2 separate regions of the Homo sapiens genome follow, and region 1 is linked to region 2. Evidence: fine-mapped expression QTL. A gene starts in region 2. The other region holds a variant in brackets. All regions are shown on one strand. Distances are between the middles of the regions. Region 1 has its middle 36 kb from the start of TRARG1. Region 2 holds the start of TRARG1 (trafficking regulator of GLUT4 (SLC2A4) 1 (gene/pseudogene)).

Evidence for each region.
Region 1: its variant is fine-mapped to the expression of TRARG1 in tibial artery (GTEx, PIP above 0.99).

Annotation. Positions count from the first base shown.
Region 1 is chr17:1,310,555-1,321,154 of GRCh38, forward strand. No RefSeq gene overlaps it. Among named protein-coding and RNA genes, the nearest start is that of TRARG1, 36 kb to the left of the region's middle. The variant G/A (reference allele first, on the strand shown) is at 5,642.
Region 2 is chr17:1,274,275-1,284,486 of GRCh38, forward strand. TRARG1 (trafficking regulator of GLUT4 (SLC2A4) 1 (gene/pseudogene)) reads left to right here and starts at 5,388. Exons shown (of 3, transcript NM_172367.3): 1 at 5,388-6,114. The coding sequence starts at 5,728.

The DNA of each region.
Region 1 (10,600 bases), 36 kb after region 2:
TGTCATCAGACAGATCAGGAAAACGGAATGACATCGAGCTACACGCTGTCATCAGACAGATCAGGAAAACGGAATGACATCGAGCTACACGCTGTCATCAGACAGATCAGGAAAACGGAATGACATCGAGCTACACGCTGTCATCAGACAGATCAGGAAAACGGAATGACATCGAGCTACACGCTGTCATCAGACAGATCAGGAAAACGGAATGACATCGAGCTACACGCTGTCATCAGACAGATCAGGGAAACGGAATGACATCGAGCTACACGCTGTCATCAGACAGATCAGGAAAACGGAATGACATCGAGCTACACGCTGTCATCAGACAGATCAGGAAAACGGAATGACATCGAGCTACACGCTGTCATCAGACAGATCAGGAAAACGGAATGACATCGAGCTACACGCTGTCATCAGACAGATCAGGGAAACGGAATGACATCGAGCTACACGCTGTCATCAGACAGATCAGGAAAACGGAATGACATCGAGCTACACGCTGTCATCAGACAGATCAGGAAAACGGAATGACATCGAGCTACACGCTGTCATCAGACAGATCAGGAAAACGGAATGACATCGAGCTACACGCTGTCATCAGACAGATCAGGAAAACGGAATGACATCGAGCTACACGCTGTCATCAGACAGATCAGGAAAACGGAATGACATCGAGCTACACGCTGTCATCAGACAGATCAGGAAAACGGAATGACATCGAGCTACACGCTGTCATCAGACAGATCAGGAAAACGGAATGACATCGAGCTACACGCTGTCATCAGACAGATCAGGAAAACGGAATGACATCGAGCTACACGCTGTCATCAGACAGATCAGGAAAACGGAATGACATCGAGCTACACGCTGTCATCAGACAGATCAGGAAAACGGAATGACATCGAGCTACACGCTGTCATCAGACAGATCAGGAAAACGGAATGACATCGAGCTACACGCTGTCATCAGACAGATCAGGAAAACGGAATGACATCGAGCTACACGCTGTCATCAGACAGATCAGGAAAACGGAATGACATCGAGCTACACGCTGTCATCAGACAGTCAGGAAAACCGTGAATTACGTCGAGCTAAACGGAGCATGACAGTAAGATTTCTCAGAGACCTTCATACACCCACGTGCACCATGTACCTCCAAGAAAGGGTGGATTATGCAGTATTTCCTAAATTCGATGGGTTGCCAAGCCCCTTCTTTGAGAAATATTTTCTTGTAAAGCTAAGTTTTAGATTTGCAAACCCAAGTATTTCCGTTATTAAAAACTCTGTATACAAAAAATTATCTGTAAACATCCTTTTAAGACGGCTGGATAATGCATATACATGATAACTTATTTATTTACTTATCCTTTCTCCCATTGTGAGGCATTAAGGTGTCCAGTTTCTCTCTCTCCCATTTTTTTCCTGCCTATAATTTTTGATGTTGTTGTTTTGAGATAGAGTTTCACCCTTGCCCAGGCTGGAGTGCAATGGCGAGATCTTGGCTCACCATAGCCTCCGCCTCCCGGGTTCGAGCGATTCTCCTGCCTCAGCCTCCCAAGTAGGTGGGACTACAGGCATGCACCACCACGCCCGGCTAATTTTTGTATTTTTAGTAGAGACGGGGTTTCACCACGTTGTCCAGGCTGGTCTTGAACTCCTGACCTCAGATGGTCCGCCCGCCTCGGCCTCCCAAAGTGCTGGGATTACAGGCGTGAGCCACTGTGCCCGCTCCCTACCTATAATTTAAACACAGGGTTTAGGCACTGGGGGAGTGAATTCTGAAGGTGCTTCAAAAGCAGCCCTTGCTGTGGAGGCCCCACTGGGTCCACCCACTCCTGAGCCAGGGAGAAGAAGGCAGCCTGGGCTTTGCCTCCTCACTGGGTCAGCTGACTGGGTCGCCATGGCAACCACACAGGCCTGGAAGAGGGAGGGTGCTCCTGGGATGGGGCTAGACGTGGAAGCCCCAGGGCCAGGTGGCTGGGAGCCTGGGACACTGGGGCTGACCAGACCAGATGGCTGGGGGACCCCCTGGGAATGGGGGGCTAAACTGCCTTTGGAAAGTGCCAGATGAACACAGGTCTCAGCCAGAAGCCTCAGACAGAGCCCCTTTCCTTCGTGGTAAGCCATTTGGAGGACCGGTGGCTGTAGCGAGATATCCGGTGAAGAGGCACCACGGATGCTGGAAAATCTGGGTAATGGGATTGAACCTGGATCTAATAATAAGCAAGTGTGATTTGCTCTCACCTGTAAAACCAGACCCCCACAGTCTTCCCAGAACTCATCCATCTGTTGGGGGCTTTGGGAAGTCCCAGCCTCCAATCTGCTCTCTGCCCCAGTAGGAATGCTCTCACCTCCCCAGTGGGAATGCTCTCACCTCCCCAGTGGGAATGCTCTCACCTCGCCAGTGGGAATGCTCTCCCCTCCCCAGTGGGAATGCTCTCACCTCCCCAGTGGGAATGTTCACCTCCCTAGTGGGAATGCTCCCTCCCCAGTGGGAATGCTCTCACCTCTCCAGTGGGAATGCTCTCACCTCTCCAGTGGGAATGCTCTCACCTCCCCAGTGGGAATGTTCCCCTCCCCAGTGGGAATGCTCTCACCTCCCCAGTGGGAATGTTCCCCTCCCCAGTGGGAATGCTCTCACCTCCCCAGTGGGAATGTTCTCACCTCCCCAGTGGGAATGTTCTCACCTCCCCAGTGGGAATGTTCACCTCCCCAGTGGGAATGTTCTCACCTCCCCAGTGGGAATGTTCTCACCTCCCCAGTGGGAATGTTCACCTCCCTAGTGGGAATGCTCCCTCCCCAGTGGGAATGTTCCCCTCCCCAGTGGGAATGCTCTCACCTCCCCAGTGGGAATGTTCTCACCTCCCCAGTGGGAATGTTCACCTCCCCAGTGGGAATGCTCTCACCTCCCCAGTGGGAATGTTCTCATCTCCCCAGTGGGAATGCTCTCACCTCCGCAGTGGGAATGTTCCCTAGTGCAAAGGGCAGATTGGAGGCTGGGTCGCCAGAAGCAGATGAGCCCTCGTTCCTGCCTTCGTATGTGCTGGTGTTTTCAAAGTTTCCCCACTTGTTTTTCACTGGATAGAGGCTTTTCTTCCACAAATTTCTCAATTTGGTTTGAATTTTATGTTCCTCAAGGAAGTGGCAAGAGGGTGCCCTTGTACACAGTTGACTGTCAGGGGAAGGTGTTTCTGGGTGAGAGGAGAGCCTGGTCTTCTTGGGACATTTCCAGGAATGCAGGAGCAAGACTATGGTGCAAGGACCAGGTCCCAGAGGCCCCTGTCTGATGTTGCAACGCTTGCCCTGACTCTCTAGGGCAACCATCATCCGCAAGAACTTTCTGTGCTCCCTGGCCCATGTCAGATTCACTTTGTTTTTTTTTTCCTTCCTCCAAGATGGAGTCTAGCTCTGTTGCCTACGCTGGGGTGCAGTGGTGCGATCTTGGCTCATTGCAACCTCCGCCTCCCGGGTTCAAGCAATTCTCCTGCCTCAGCCTCCTGAGTAGCTGGGATAACAGGCATCTTCCACCACGCCCGGCTAATTTTTGTATTTTTAGTAGAGACGGGGTTTCACCATGTTGGCCAGGATGGTCTCGAACTCCTGACCTCATGGTCTGCCCACCTCGGCCTCCCAAAGTGCTGGGATTACAGGCATGAGCTACCGTGCCCGGCCGAGGTTCACTCTTTAAACTTATTTAAAACAAAACATTATGCTTGCCCTGACTCTCTCGGGCAACCATCCTCCGCAAGAATTTTCTGTGCTCCCCAGCCCATGTGAGATTCACTCTTTTTTTTTTTTTTTTTTTTTTGAGATGGAGTCTCGCTCTGTCACCCAGGCTGGAGTGCAGTGGCACGATCTTGGCTCACTGCAAACTCCGCCTCCCGGGTTCATGCCATTCTCCTGCCTCAGCCTCCCGAATAGCTGGGACTACAGGCACCCACCACTATGCTCGGCTAATTTTTTGTATTTTTAGTAGAGACGGGGTTTCACTGTGTTAGCCAGGATGGTCTGATCTCCTGATGTCGTGATCCACCAGCCTCAGCCTCCCAAAGTGCTGGATACAGGCGTGAAGAGATTCACTCTTTAAACTTATTTAAAACAAAACAGAAACCCCATCTAAGTTCTCTGCACCAAACTGATACCAGCCGTCGCTCATGGCTGGGGGAGTCGCTATGGGACTGGAGGTGAGAAAGGCAGTCTCCAGTTTTTATCCCATATACCTTGTTTCGTTGGAACCTTACACCAAGCATTTATAGATGTATTACCTTTATCATTTATAATTTAATTGAAAAAATAGGAATGTCTGAGGGAGAACAGATGATTCCCTGTAATCCATTAGCTGAAGCAATCAATGTGAAGAGCTGAACATTTTTCTTCCGGGCTTTTAAAAAGAAATTTGTGACATACAGCTATAGTCGCTTTATAATAAAAGGGCTCTAGTAAGTGGCCTTTGCATGGTAGCTGGACTTCGAGGGGCTTTTAAGTAGCAGATCCCTTCTATCTCCCACAAACCTGCCTCCTTAAGATGCATCAGCCTCACCTGACTGAAATGACACCAAAACACCAGGCGGCCTGAGCTGCTGGAGGGGCTGGAAGCCCTGAGAAGCTCCCTCTCCCCGGCCGGGCACGGTGGCTCACGCCTGTAATCCCAGCACTTTGAGAGGCCGAGGCGGGCGGATCATGAGGTCAAGAAATCAAGACCATCCTGGCCAACATGGTGAAACCCCGTCTCTACTAAAAATATAAATATTAGCTGGGTGTGGTGGCACACGCCTGTAGTCCCAGCTATTCGGGAGGCTGAGACAGGGGGATCGCTTGAACCCGGGAGGTGGAGGTTGCAGTGAGCCGAGATCGCGCCATTGCACTCCAGCCTGGTGACAGAGTGAGACTCCATCTCAAAAAAAAAAAGCTTCCTCTCCCTCCAGGACAGAGCTCTCCAGAAAAGCCTCTCCCCCGCTGCCCTCCCCAGGCTCCCGTCTTCCTGACCTTTGCTTTGGATCTGGTTCTTGCTCTTGGCCCTCGCCCTGGAGCTGGATGCTTTGGTCGGGCTCTTGCCTCCAGCGTCTCCTTTGCTATCAGCCTGCCCTCCCATTGCCCCAGTTGGAGGCAGGGCTGCCAGCTCCAGCCTGGCCAGTGGGGAAAATGGATGCGTCTACCTCCTGGTTCCCTGCTGAGGTCAGAGGCCCTTTCCGACCTCCTAAGCCACTCAGGGGGCCCGTGGCTGTACAGGATATCCAGTGAACAGGCACCACGGATGCTGGAAAATCCAGGTAATGGGATTGAACCCGGATCTAAGAACGGGCCAGTGTGATTTGCTCTCACCCTTAAAACCAGACCCCACAGTCTTCCCAGAACTCATCCACCTGTTGGGTCTTTGGGAAGTCCCAGGGCACTGAGGTCTCAGGGTACAGAGGTCCCAGGCTTGGCTCCCTCTGGTTGTTAGCCCGTGCAGACATTCCAGGGTCTACAGACGCTCCCTGGAGAGGGGAACACGAGGTTCCAGGCAGGGCCCGGCTGCCCTCCCAGGGGAACCGAGCTGGAGGAACTCATGTTTTCATCATGGCCCGTGGGAGCCACTCATGGGCTGCTTAAACAGGCAGGAGGTAAACACACACCCCAGGCGACCAAGATCAGC[G/A]GCTCCCTGCACAGCGGGTTTAATTATAAGAGCAACATAATAGCGACAGGACAGAAAGGGGGGGAAATGGCAGGGAAAACCTCTCACCAGCCCACAGCCTCCACATTCCCACTGCCTGGCTGTGAACCTTCTCCCTCCTGGGTGACTTTGCCCAGGGGTGTGGAGTGGGTTTTTTCCTTTCTTAATTTCATTCCAATTGCAAAATTAATACAACGTCATTGCAGCAAACTTGGAAAATGCGAAAAGCCTGAAGAAGAAAACAACAATTTCTCTAAGTGGGTTTTTTTTTTTTTTTTGAGACGGAGTCTGGCTCTGTCACCCAGGCTGGAGCGCAGTGGCGCGATCCTGGCTCACTGCAACCTCCACCTCCCGGGTTCAAGTGATTCTCCTGCCTTAGCCTCCCAAGTAGCTGGAATTACAGGCACTCACCACTGGGCCCGGCTAATGTTTATATTTTTAGTAGAGATGGGGTTTCACCATGTTGGCCAGGCTGGTCTCGAACTCCTGGCCTCAAGTGATCCACCCTCCTCGGCCTCCCAAAGTGCTGGGATTACAGGCGTGAGCCGCCGCGCCCGGCCCCTGGGGTTGGTTTGTGCAGAAGCGAGAACCTGCTCAGGAGCTTGCAGCTGGTAAGAGTGGAATTAGAATGGGAACCAGATATAATAATAAAAGCTTCATCTTTTAGAAAAAGATCAAATCAGAAATATGGGTTACATTTGTAAAAGGCTTTCAATTAAAAAGAGGCTGTGAAGCACATCTTGGGAGGCCTAAAAGTCCTTTTCATTTGGATATTGTTTTATCAAAAGCCCTAGTTTGTGCTGATAAGAAAATGGATTTCACAAGATTGAATCTAACAAAAAGCTTTGGCTAGCTGATTAATTAGGTGAGTCACAGGTCTCCTGGGAGTTCAAAGTCAGGAGTTTAAAGACCCTATGAAAACACATAGGAAGCCGGGCTTGGTGGCTCATGCCTGTAATCCCAACACTTTGGGAGGCCAAAAAGGGTGGATCATGAGGTCAGGAGTTCGAGACCACCCTGGCCAACATAGTGAAACCCTGTCTCTACTAAAAATATAAAATTAGCCAGGCATGGTGGTGGGCACCTGTAATTCCAGTTACTCAGGAGGCTGAGGCAGGAAAATCGCTGGAACCCGGGAGGCGGAGGTTGCAATGAGCCGAGATCGCCCCACTGCACTCCAGCCTGGGCAAAAAGAGTGAAACTCCATTAAAAAAAAAAGAAAGAAAGAAAGAAAAAAGAAAAATGTAGTAATAGTTCACCAATCTCTCCATCACTTCAGATAAACTGGGCCAGGCACAGTGGCTCACACCTGTAATCCCAGAACTTTGGGAGGCCGAGGCAGGAGGATCACTTGAGCCTCAGAGTTTGAGACCAGCCTGGGGAACCCAGGGAGATCCCTTCTCTACAAAAAAATGCAAAAAAATATGAGCCAAGCATAGTGGTGCATACCGTAGTCCCAGCTACTTAGGAGTCTGAGGAGGGAGATTCATTTGAGTCCAGGAGTTGGAGGCTGCAGTGAGCCGTGATTGCGCCACTGCACTCCAGCCTGGGTGACAGAGCAAGACCCTGTCTCAAAAAATACATAAAAACATTAAAAGAATAAAAAATAAAGTTCAGACAGGCTAGGCACAGATGAATTAAATCCACAGTAAGTACTGTATTTTTATTTTCACCAAAAATGTCAATCTTATCCTCAGTGCTAATTTTCTGGGGGAAAACCACGAGCTACGCTGTTCTACTCTCAGAAGCTCCATTTTGCTCACATTCAGCTCTTTCTCTTTTTTTTTTTTTTTTTTTTTTGAGACAGATTCTCACTCTGTTGCCCAGGCTGCAGTGCAGTGGCGCGATCACTGCTCACTGCAACCTCCGCCTCCCGGGTTCAAGCGATTCTCCTGTCTCAGCCTCCCAAGTAGCTGGGATTACAGGTGCCCACCACCACACCCAGCTAATTTTTGTATTTTTAGTAGAGACAGGGTTTCACCATATTGTACAAGCTGGTCTCGAACTCCTCTTGACCTCAGGTGATCCACCTCCCTTGGCCTCCCAAAGTGCTGGGATTACAGGCATGAGCCACTGCGCCTGGCCTCAGCTCACATTTATTGAACATCTACTATGTGCCACTTACTTTCACATACATTTCATTTGACCCATGACAACCTATTTTATTTATGTATTTATTTATTGAAATGGAGTTTCGCTTTTCTTGGCCAGGCTGGAGTGCCACGGGTCGATCTAGGCTCACTGCAACCCCCACCTCCCAGAGTCAAGTGATTCTCCTGCCTCAGCCTCCCAAGTAGCTGGGATTACAGGCATGAGCCACCACGCCCCGCTAATTTCTTGTATTTTTAGTATAGACGGGGTTTCGCCAGGTTGGTCAGGCTGGTCTCGAACTCCCGACCTCAGCTGATTGGCCCGCCTCGGCCTCCCAAAGTGCTGGGATTATAGGCATGAGCCGCCTCGCCCAGCCCACCTTTTGGCTATTGTAAATATAATACTGCTGTGAACATGGGCTTGCAAAGATCTTTTTGAGATCCCGCTTTCAATTCTTCTGGGCATATACCCAGAAGCGGAACTGCTGGATCACATGGTAATTCTATTTTTAACTTTTTGAGGACTTGCCTTACTGTTTTCCATAGTGACTGCACTATTGTGCATTCCAACCGACGGTGCACAGGGGTTCTAGTGCCTCAGCATCCTCACCAGCACTTATTTATTTATTTATTTATTTATTTATTTATTTATTTATTTATTGAGATGGAGTCCCACTCTGTCGCCCAGGCTGGAGTGCAGTGGTGCAATCTCAGCTCACTGCAACCTCCTCCTCCCCAGATTCAAGTGATTCCCCTGCCTCAGCCTCCCGAGTAGTTGGCATTACAGCCGTCCGCCACGACGCCTGGCTGATTTTTGTACCTTTAGTAGAGACGGGGTCTCACCATGTTGGCCAGGCTGGTCTTGAACTCCTGACCTCTAGTGATCCGCCTGCTTTGGCCTCCCAAAGTGCTGGGATTATAGGCGTGAGCCACCGCGCCCAGCCAATACTTTTTTTTTTTGGAGACACGATCTTGCTCTGTTTCTTGGGCTGGAGGGCAGTGGCGTGATCACGGGTCACTGCAGCCTCGACCTCCTGGGCTCAAGCAATCCTCCCACCTCAGCCCTCTGAGTCGCTGGGACCACAGGCACATGCCACCACACCTGACTAATTTTTTATTATTTGTAGAGATGTAGAGCCTTCTGTTTCCCAGGCTCAAGTTCCTGGGCTCAAATGATCTGCCCACATTGGCCTCTCAAAGTGCCAGGATTACAGGTGTGAGCCACCATGCCTGGCCTCTGGTTTGTTGTTTGTTTTTTGAGATGGAATCTCGCTCTGTTGCCCAGGCTGGAGTGCAGTGGCGCTATCTTGGCTCACTGCAACTCCGCCTCCCAGGTTCACGCCATTCTCCTGCCTCAGCCTCCCGAGTAGCTAGGCTACAGGTGCCCACCACCATGCCCAGCTAATTTTTTGTAGTTTTAGTAGAGACAGGGTTTCACCATGTTAGCCAGGGAGGTCTCAATTTCCTGACCTCGTGATCCACCCACCTCGGCCTCTCAAAGTGCTGGGATTACAGGTGTGAGCCACCGCACCTGGCCTCTGTTTTGTTTTTTGATGGTAGCCATTCTAACGGGTATGAGTTATAAGCCTACAGTTTTATATCCTCCTGATTGTCCCCAATAACAGGGAGGATAAAAATGGAATGAACATACGGACACTGATCAGACAGGCATCAGGACCTGCCAGTAAAAGACACTGAAATATTGGCAAGACCAAAATAAATGGAGAGAAATATCAAGACATGAACTCAAGATTCAATATTGTAAAGATGTTCATTCTCCTCCAGTTGATCTATATATTTAGTGTAACGCCAATCAAAATCCAGCAAGTTTTTCTTGGAAGCTGACAAAGTGATTCCACAATTTATATAAAAATGCAAAGGACCAGCCAGGCTCAGTGGCTCACTCCTGTAAGCCCAGCACTTTGGAAGGCAGAGGTGGGAGGATCACCTGAGGTCAGGAGTTCCAGACCAGCCTGGCCAAGATGGTGAATCCCCGACTCTACTGAAAACACAAAAATTAGCCAGACATGGTGGTGCATGCCCCTAATCCCAGCTACTCAGGAGGCTGAGGCAGGAGAATTGCTTGAACCCGGGAGGTGGAGGTTGCAGTGAGCCGAGATCACACCACTGCACTCCAGCCTGGGTGACAGAGCGAGACTCTGTCTCGGAAAAGAAAAAAAAAATGCAAAGGATCAAGAATAGCCAAGATAACTTTGAGGATAAAGAACAAATCCGCAGGACCTATTACCAGATATCAGGACTTATTGTAAAGTTATAGTAATTAAAACAGAGTGGTGTTTTCTCCAGGACAGAAAAATAGACCAATGGAGGGCTGGGGGCAGTGGCTCACGCCTGTAATCCCAGCTACTTGGGAGGCTGACGCAGGAGAATGGTGTAAACCCGGGAGACGGAGCTTGCAGTGAGCCGAGATCACACCACTGCACTCCAGCCTGGGCGACAGAGCGAGACTCCGTCTCAAAAAAAAAAAGAAAAGAAAAATAGACCAATGGAAAAGAATGAGAAATCCAGAAGGAGACTCGGGACAACTGCTTCGTTCATGACAAAATTGGTGCGTCAGTACAGTAAAGAAAGGATGAGGCTAGGCGCAGTGGCTCACGCCTGTAATCCCAGCACTTTGGGAGGCTGAGGCGGGCGGATCGGCTGAGGTCAGGGGTTTGAGACCAGCCTGGCCAACATAGTGAAACCGTGTCTCTACTAAAAATACAAAAATTAGCTGGGCATGATGGCACACGTCTGTAGTCCCAGCCACTAGGGAGGCTGAGGCAGGAGAATCGCTTGAACCTGGGAGGCGGAGGTTGCAGTGAGCCAAGATTACACCATTGCTCTCCAG
Region 2 (10,212 bases):
GTTTGCCCAAATATTGTTTAAAAGGCACAATGATAGGCATGAAATGCATAGAGAAAGGAAAATGCCAGGAAGGAAAGACGCACGTGTAAGACAGAGCCGCCAAGCCATGGCTCACTGTAGCCTTGACCTCCTGGGCTCACGTGATCCTCCCACCTCAGCCTTCCTAGTAGCTGAGAATACAGGCGTGTGCCACCATGCCGGCTAATTTTTGTATTTTTTGTAAAGATGGGGTTTTGCCATGTTGCCCAGGCTGGTCTCAAATACCTGGGGCTCAAGTGATCCTCCTGCCTTAGCCTCCCAAAGTGCTGGCATTACAGGTATGAGGGGCCTGGCCTTAATTTTCTTTCTTTTTTTCTTTCTTTTTTTTTTTTTTTTTTTTTTTTTTGAGATGGAGTCTCGCTCTGTCGCCCAGGCTGGAGTGCAGTGGCGTGATCTTGGCTCACTGCAAGCTCTGCCTCCCGGGTTCACGCCATTCTCCTGCCTCAGCCTCCCGAGTAGCTGGGACTACAGGCGCCCGCCACCACGCCCGGATCATTTTTTTTCATATTTTTAGTAGAGACGGGGTTTCACTGTGTTAGCCAGGATGGTCTCCCGACCTCGTGATCCGCCCGCCTCAGCCTCCCAAAGTGCTGGGATTACAGAAATGAGCCACCGCGCCCGGCCTAATTTTCATTAGAGTCTTCATCATTGTTATTTTAAAAGGTGAAAAATTAGGCCCAGCCAACATGGCGAAACCCCGTCTCCACTAAACAAACAAAAATTAGCCAGGCATGGTGGCAGGAGCCTGTAATCCCAGCTACTTGGGAGGAGGCTGAGGCAGGAGAATCACTTGAAACCCAGAAGGCGGAGGTTGCAGTGAGCCGAGATAGCACCACTGCACTCCAGCCTGGGCAACAGAGTGAGATTTGGTGTCAAAAAAAAAAAAGTGCAAGATCAGTCTCCTTAGGAAAACTCCCAAGAGGAGTAGGGATGTGTTTTGAGCAAGGACAGAAAGGAGACGCATCCCCAGTGGGTTCCTTCAGGTGGACCCGCCTCCCTGGATGTGAAATTCTGGGGTGCTTGCTGATGGGCGCACGATTACGTCAATGTTTATCACACTTTACAAAAGGACGTGCGTGTGTGTGTGTGAATGAGTGTGCGAGTGTGTGTGAGTGAATGTGTGTGGGGGTGACTGTGTGTGTGTGAGTGAGGGTGTGTGAATGTGTGTGGGGGTGAGTGTGTGAGTGTGTGTGTGAGGGTGTGTGAATGTGTGTGGGGGTGAGTGTGTGGGGGTGATTGTGAGGGTGTGTGAATGTGTGTGGGGTGAGTGTGTGAGTGTGTGAGTGTGTGGGGGGTGAGTGTATGAGTGTGTGTGAGTGTGTGGGGTGACTGAGTGTGAGGGTGTGTGAATGTGTGTGGGGCGAGTGTGTGAGTGTGTGAGTGTGTGTGAATGTGTGTGTGGGGGGGGTGTGTGGGTGAGTGTGTGAGTGTGTGTGAGTGTGTGGGGGTGACTGAGGGTGTGTGAATGTGTGTGGGGGTGAGTGTGTGAGTGTGTGAGTGTGTGAGAGTGTGTGGGGTGAGTGTATGAGAGTGTGAGAGTGTGTGTGTGAGAGAGAGTGTGTGAGAGTGTGTGTGTGTGTGTGTGTGTACACAGATGTCAGGAGGCTACTCTCTCACTCCTGGAGCAGAACTCCTGAACGGGGCCCAGGAAGGCTTCAGTGAGAAGAGGAATTGGCTCAATTGCACCTTCCCTGTCAGCCCCGTAGGGTTTCCTGACACCCAGTGAGACGCCAAGGATGAAAGGGCTGTGGGGCAGAGATATGAGGAGGATGTTTCTCCTTCCCCTGGGCTTCGGCTTGAACTTGCTTATGCTTCTGAGGTTTCTTCCCCGCCCCACCTCACCCCCCAAAGGACCCCTCATGGGCAGGTCCACTCCCCCGCACTGTTCACATCCCTGTCCTCTCTCAGCATCCCTCGCATGTAGGGTGCTCAAAGGTTGGGGTCACCGCCGGGAGCCCAAATCCGCTGCTGCCTCCCTCGGGCTCCCTCCACTCTGGTCATTCCCCTCATCACTACCTGCCACGAGGTGGCGCTGAGACTCCAGCATCCCACACGGGCGGAGCAAACGTGGGTCCCTAATTACCCCCGACCCCAGCCCGCCCAGGCAACCTCGTGCCAGGGACTACTCTGGGGACTTCTTAGTTTTTTCTTTCCTCCTTTTATTCCATCAAGAATTTAACATATAGCCGGGTGCGGTGGCTCACGCCTGTTATCCCTGCACTTTGGGAGGCCGAGGTGGGCAGATCACCTGAGGTCAGGAGTTCAAGACTAGCCTGGCCAACATGGCGAAACCCTGTCTCTACTAAAAATACAAAAATTAGCCGGACGTGGTGGTGGATGCCTGTAATCCCAGCTACTCGGGAGGCTGAGGTAGGAGAATCGCTTGAACCCGGGAGGCAGAGGTTGCAGCAAGCCTAGAGCCAAGATCACAACACTGCACTCCAGCCTGGGCAACAGAGCAAGACTCTATCTCGTGAGCCACCGTGCCCAGCCTGAAACCCCAATTTTTATATGAAATGAATTTTTAAAATCATGTGTTGAGGCCGGGCGCGGTGGCTCATGCCTGTAATCCCAGAACTTTGGGAGGCAGAGGCGGGTGAATCACCTGAGTTCAGGAGTTTGGGACCAGCCTGGCCAACATGGTAAAACCCCATCTCTACTAAAAATACAAAAATTAGCCAGGCGTGGTGGTGCATGCCTGTAATCCCAGATACTCAGGAGGCTGAGGCCGGAGAATCGCTTGAACCTGGGAGGCGGAGGTTGCAGTGAGCCGAGATCGCGCCACTGCACTCCAGCTTGGTGACAGAGCGAGATTCTGTCTCAAAAAAAAATTTTTTTAATTTTCTACTAGGCACATTTTTAGAACGTAAAAATAAGCAGATGAAATCAATAATGTTGATTTTAATAACGTTTTATTTATCCCAATATATCCAAAATATTATCCTTTCAATATACAATCAATAAAAAGTATTAATGAGATATTTTCCATTCTTTTTGTGTTTGGACCCAGTTTTCGATGTCTTGTGTGTATTTTACATCTCAACTTGGATGAGTCACATTTCAAGGGCTCGGAAGCCACATGTGGCTAGGGGCTACCGAATTGGGCTGGGTAGCTGTCGTCCCTCCACCCAGGGGTCAGCTCCAAGGCTGTACCATGGCATTCTGCCCAACTGGATACCGGCTTGGAGCCTAAGGGGTCTCAGGGACCCACCTAGCCACCCTGTGAAGGAGCTTTCCTGTTATACAGGATTATCGTATTTCTGGACGCTCATAAGCAGGGGAGCCCAGCTCGCTCCCAGGCCCCACACCTGGCCTCCCTGAGGACTGAGAGGAGGACGAGGCGGCTCCCCAAGGTCTTCATTTTGCAAATAACAATGGGTTTCCTTTATTGAGCACAATTCTCTCTCTCTCTCTCTTTTATTTTTTTGAGAGGAGTCTCACTCTGTCACCCAGGCTGGAGTGTAGTGGCATGATCTCCACTCACTGCAACCTCTGCCTCCCGGGTTCAAGCAATTCTCCTGCCTCAGCCTCCTGAGTAGCTGGGATTACAGGCATGTGCCACCACACCCAGCTAATTTTTGTATTTCTAGTAGAGACGGGGTTTCACCACATTGGTCAGGATGGTCTCAATCTCCTGACCTCGTGATCTGCCCACCTTGGCCTCCCAAAGTGCTGGGATTACAGGCGTGAGCCACCATGCCCAGCCTGAGCAAAATTCTTAATTTAATATAGTCAAATTTATGAAACCTGCAAAGTTCTCCCAAAGCCACAAACATTGTTTTTTATTTGTTTGTTTGTTTGTTTGTTTTTAGTTGGAGTCTCATTCTGTCACCCAGGCTGGAGTGCAGTGGTGCAACCTTGGCTCACTGCAACGTTCGCTTCTTCCCAGGTTCAAGTGATTCTCCTGCCTCAGTCTCCAAAGTAGCTGTGGTTACAGGCACCCACCACCACGCTAATTTTTGTATTTTTAGTAGAGACAGGGTTTTGCCATGATGGCCAGGCTGGTCTCGAACTGCTGACCTCAAGTGATCCACCTGCCTCAGCCTCCCAAAGTGCTGGGATTACAGGCATGAGTCACCGTGCCCGGCTGAGTTTTCAAATCTTATTCATTTCCAGGTGTCCTTTCAGCCCCATATCTCCCACTGAGCTGTGCGGCAGGATCTCGGCTCACTGCAGCCTGGACCTCCCAGGCTCAAGCGATTCTCCTCCCTCAGCCTCCCAAGTAGCTGGGATTACAGGCATGTACCACCACGCCCATATATTTTTTGTATTTTTTGTAGAGATGGGATTTTGCCATGTTGCCCAGGCTGGTGTCAAACTCCTGGGCTAAAGCAGTCCTTCTGCCTCGGCCTCCCGAAGTGCTGGGTTTATGGGCATGAGCCATGGCATCCCGCCTGATCGTAGGATTTTAAACTATTTCATACAACCACTTTCAAACCACACACACACATCCGTGGCGGCTCCAGATCACACTTGTAAAACAATGTAAGGAGGGGCGTCAGGAATATAGAAAGAGATGCCGAGGATAGAGAAGAAGGCAGAGACAGAGGGAGAAAACCTAAGAGAGAACAAAGGAGGAGAATCCGATAGGACAAACAGCCTGAGGCCCTTCCGAGCTGGCATCTGCCCGGAGCAGCTGACCTAGGGGCTCTCTGCCACCGGCTCTTTAGCACCCCAGAATCGTTCTGATGGGCATGAGGTGGACCCAACACTCCCCCTTATCCTCTTCCCCACCTGGTGGTGAGCTACGTAGAAACCTACTCATGGGGCCCTGCTGGTCCATGCAGGGTCCAGGCAGGATCCAGGGGCTACCCTGGTGCTCACATCTCCCCTTCCCTTCTGGAGTCGGGAGCCAGGCTTTGGCCTGGATGCTCCCAGCGGTTGGGGGTCAGGGTCTGGGTGGGATGTAATAGGGGGCCCTAAGGTCCAGCATTTCCCAACAGAAAGAAAGAAGTACACGCTTGCTTTGGAAGAAGCAGCGGAGGGCTCAGTTCCCAGGACAGCTGAAGACACATCCCTGTGGGGCCCAAAGTGTCTTTCTCCCCATCCAGAGACCCTGCCCAGAGGAGCAGGCCCTGGAGCTGCAACAGAAACCGGAGGCTGGCCCAAGTCCCTCTGGGCTGGGCTGGGCTGGGCTGGGCAGAGCTGGGCTGGGCTGGGCTGGGCTGGGGCAGAGGCAAAATCCTGCCAGGGTGGTTCTCTGGGGAGAGGGGAATTGAAAAGGAAAAGCATCACCAAGGAGGGGGAGAGGGAGGGAGGCCGTGTGCGCACACGCACACACACACACACACACACACACACACACACACAGCCTCCCTGACTGAGCCTGAGCCTCCCTGGGAAGAGGCGCATTCTTCTCTCTGCTCTCTGAGCTTTCCGTTGCTTCCCTGCCCATCTGTGCTCTCAGCAGCACCAGCAAAGTTGGCCTCAAACTTGAACAAAGCTGCAGGCTCCAGCGTCTTTCTGGGAGCTCCGCGGGGGCAGCAGGCAGGCCCCAGCCTCTGAACTCAGCTGGCTTGAGAAGCTCAGCCCAACCCTTCCAGCACCCAGCCGGCCCTCCGTCTCCTGAGGGACGCCCCTGCCCCCGACCTGGAGGCCCTCAGTCTGGGCTGGGGAATGGCGCGCTGAGGTCCCTCCAGAGCCCCTTGTCCCAGCCTGGAGCTGCAGCCGCGCAAGGCCCAGGCCCCCATGGCCCACCCGGTGCAGTCCGAGTTTCCTTCAGCACAGGAGCCAGGCTCCGCCGCATTCCTGGACCTGCCGGAGATGGAGATACTCCTCACCAAGGCAGAGAACAAGGATGACAAGACCCTGAATCTGTCCAAGACCCTCTCGGGGCCTCTGGATCTGGAGCAGAACAGCCAGGGCCTACCCTTCAAGGCCATCTCCGAGGGGCACCTGGAGGCCCCACTGCCTCGGTCCCCCTCCCGGGCCAGCTCAAGGAGGGCGTCCTCCATCGCCACCACCTCCTATGCCCAAGACCAAGAAGCCCCCAGAGATTACCTCATCCTGGCCGTCGTCGCCTGCTTCTGCCCCGTCTGGCCCCTCAACCTCATCCCCCTCATCATTTCCATCATGGTAAGTGCTGGTCTTTGTTCCAGGGGCAGGGGCTGGGCCCAGGGGTCGGCAGGTGTTTCCCCCAGGCAGGCACCAAACACTGCCCAGGGTGTGGAGAAGAGAGAGCTGGGAGTGGGGGGCTTGGGGAAGACTCCTTTCCTCACTGGCCTCCTCCTTCCTCTTAGAGAGGGGCCCCGGGGCTGGAAGAGCTCCTGCTCTGTTCTCTCATCTCTGCTTCTGGGCATCAGAGCTCGACTTTGCACCTGTGTCTGCTGGGGAGGGGCCCTCAGGGAGCTGCCTGGCGATACATCCCGCGGGGCAGAAAGATAGCCAGGCTGGGGGTCTTGCTGTTTTAGGAGGGACGGGCGGTCCCAAAGGGTCATCGCCAAGTGGGGCTGTCTCAGCAGAGGTTGCACCGGACGGGGGTCCCAGCGCCCATGTGTCCTCCCAGGCCACCTGGACATGCTCCCAGCCTCTGCCGGCTCCGGTTTCCAAGAGTCGCAGCGGCTTCCCTGCCGTACCCTGAGGGCTCCGGGGCCAGGCTCCCCCGAGGGGCGCACAAAGCGGGGAGAGCTGGCAGACTGCTCCTCCCGAGGCGTGGAGTTCCCTCCGGAGCCCTCTGCAGCTCCACAGCTACGCTGACTTCAGCCTCGTCTTCAGGGCAGGGGAGGTCTGGGTCACAAGTGAAAAATGTGAGAGTCAGAGGGCATGGCCTGCCATGCCCAGGAAGGGGCATGGGGCCGGGTCTGTACTTCCATGGGATTTTGAATGAATTGTCTTAGATTGTCTCCAACCCAAGCCCTTTGGGTAGAGCTACTTATAAAGGATTCCATAGAAAATGTCAGCAGATATTGGCAAGTGACTTTTGAAGTCCAGGAAGAAGCGAGAGTTATGAAAGGGTGGGGAGAGGGAGAAGCAGGGCTCAGCAATGATTTCAGAGTGAGGTCAGGGGCAGGGGGTAGAAAACTGCTGGCCCAGGCTGGTCAGGGCCAGAGGACTAGGTGTGGAGGGGGGTTCCCAAGAGTGACTCCCTGCAGAGTCACCATCACCGAACCCCCAGGAGCTGTCCTCTGAGAAAGCTCCTATTTCTTCAAACCACTCTGTCTACCTCAGGGAGGCCCAGTCTCCCAGCAGGGAAGCCTTCCCCATCCCACCAAAGCCAGTACTACCTTTCAGGACATCAGGGGGCACTGGCAGCCTTCCTGAGTCTGAGGGACTTGGCATGGGCTGTGGAAGCAGGGCCGGGCAGGGGCCTTCCGGGCAGCTCTCTGTGATGCCTGCTGTACCTGGGGACCGCTTGCAGGTAAAGCCAGGACCCAGGGGTGCAGCCAGTGGCTGTGGGCAGGGCCTGCCTCTTGGTTACAGGGAAAGGCCCCAGGAGGGGAAACTGGATTTGGGGAGGGAAGCTACCCAAGGGCTCAGGAGAAAACAGCTGCTGGAATCCATCTCCTGGTGGGGTGGCAGGGTGCAGGCTGGGCAGGACCTGCCTCTGACAAACAGAGCCTAAGCCCAAGGCAATGAGACCACAGAACCTGCCCCAGTGAGTTTCTATATATACATATACATACATGTACATATATGCACATACATGTACATATATGCACACGTGTACATATATGTACATATATACAGATATACACATATGTACATATACATATGTACATATATACACACATATGTACACATATGTACATGTATACACATATATACATATATGTACATATATACGTATATGTGTACACATAAATGCACATATGTACATATACACGCATATATGTACGTATACACGTGCATATATGTACGTATACACGTGCGTATATGTACGTGTACACGTGCGTATATGTACGTATACACGTGCGTATATGTACGTATATGCACGTATATGTACGTATATGTACATATATGCACGTATATGTACATATATGTACGTATATGTACATATGCGTATATATGTACATATATGTACGTATATGTACATATGCGTATATATGTATATATGTACGTATATGTATATATATTTTAAGACAGAGTCTTGCTCTGTCACCCAGGCTGGAGTGCAATGGTGCGATCTCGGCTCACTGCAACCTCTGCCTCCCAGGTTCAAGCAGTTCTCTTGCCTCAGCCTCCTGAGTAGCTGGGATTACAGGAGCCCACCACCACACCTGGCTAATTTTTGTATTTTTAGTAGAGACGGGGTTTTACCATGTTGGCCAGGCTGGTCTTGAACTCCCGACCTCGTGATCCACCCACCTCGGCCTCCGAAAGGGCTGGGATTACAGGTGTGAGCCACTGAACCTGGCCTGTTTCTATATTCTTTAAAGGTTTTGTTTTGTTTTATTTGAAACGGAGCCTCGCTCTGTCGCCCAGGCTGGAGTGCAATGGTGCGATCTTGGCTCACTGCAAACTCCGTCTCCCAGGTTCATGCAATTCTCCTGCCTCAGCCTCCCAAGTAGCTGGCATTACAGGCGCTGGCCACCATGCCTGGCTAATTTTTGTATTTTTAGTAGAGACGGGGTTTCTCCATGTTGGTCAGGCTGGTCTCAAACTCCTGATCTCAGGTGATCCTCCCACCTCGGCCGCCCAAAGTGCTGGGATTACAGGCAAGTGCCCACCACACTCGGCCCCTTTTACGTTTTTGAGTCAGGTGTGATGAATACCAGGCTGGGCACAGGGAATACATTGCTAACCAGACACTGTTGCCAATTCCCCAGAACCTCCAGTCCGGCAGGAAGGAACTCTTAAACAGATTCTTATGACATATTTCCAGAAGTGCCCGTGGTAGACATAAAGTTAAGATAATGAGCTGGGAAAGTCATTCAAACGGCTCTTCTCCCTGGCATTCCCATCTGCAAAATGGGTATAACCTCAATGCCTGCACGAGAGAGCCGTGAGGGGGTGAAATGAGACGGGCCACACCCAGTGCTTCAGAACAACACCAGGAGGGTGTGGGGCTCTTACAGGATAATGGGTACGTAAGTGGCAGCGGGGAGCCTCCCGGGGGAGGCAGGAAGCCATCCTGGTGTTTTAGAAATGGCTTTGTTGAGATATAACTCACATACCATATGATGCACCCATCTAAAGTGTATTCACAGACAGGTGCAACAACCGCAGTCAATTTGGAACATTTGCCTCATCTCCAAAAGAAACCCTGTACCCTGGCCGGGCGCAGTGGCTCATGCCTGTAATCCCAGCACTTTGGGAGGCCGAGGCGGGTGGATCTCCTGAGATCAGGAGTTCGAGACCAGCCTGGCCAACATGGTGCAACCCCATCTCTACTAAAAATACAAAAAAATTAGCCAGGTGTGGTGTCATGTGCCTGCAATCCCAGCTACTCGGGAGGCTGAGGCAGGAGAATCACTTGAACCCTGGAGGCAGAGGTTGCAGTGAGCCGAGATCCAGCCACTATACTCCAGCCTGAGTAACAGAGTGAGATTCTATCTCAAAAAAAATAAAATAAAATAAAGGGCCGGGAGTGGTGGTCATGCCTGTAATCCCAGCACTTTGGGAGGCCGAGGCGGGCAGATCACGAGGTCAGGAGATTGACACCATCCTGGCTAACACGGTGAATCCCCATCTCTACTAAAAATGCAAAAAATTAGCCGGGCATGGTGGCAGTGGGCGCCTGTAGTCCCAGCTACTCAGGAGGCTGAGGCAGGAGAATGGCGTGAATCCGGGAGGCGGAGCTTACAGTGAGCTGAGATGGTGCCACTGCACTCCAGCCTGGGCGACAGAGCAAGATTCTGTCTCAAAAAAAAAAAGAAAGAAAGAAAGAAAGAAAAGAAAGAAAGAAACCCTGTCCCCTTCAGCTGTCACTCTCCATCCCTGCCCCTCCCAGCCCTGAGCAACCACTCATCTCCTTTCTGTTTCTCTAGATCTGCCTATTCTGGACATGAAATGATAAATGGAATCATACAGTATGAGGCCTGTGTTCCTGGCCTCGTTCACTTTGCATGTCGTCTTCAAGCGTCATCCCTGCCGCAGTGCCGTAGCAGCACGCTGTAGGCTTTGCAGCCGAGAGGAGTGTGGTTGGATCTCCATTTTGCTGGATCAGTCTGGGGCAGGGTGAGAGGAGGGGTTGGAGGGGATGAGGCTGGCGTTCAGCAGAGGGGACCCTCGTAG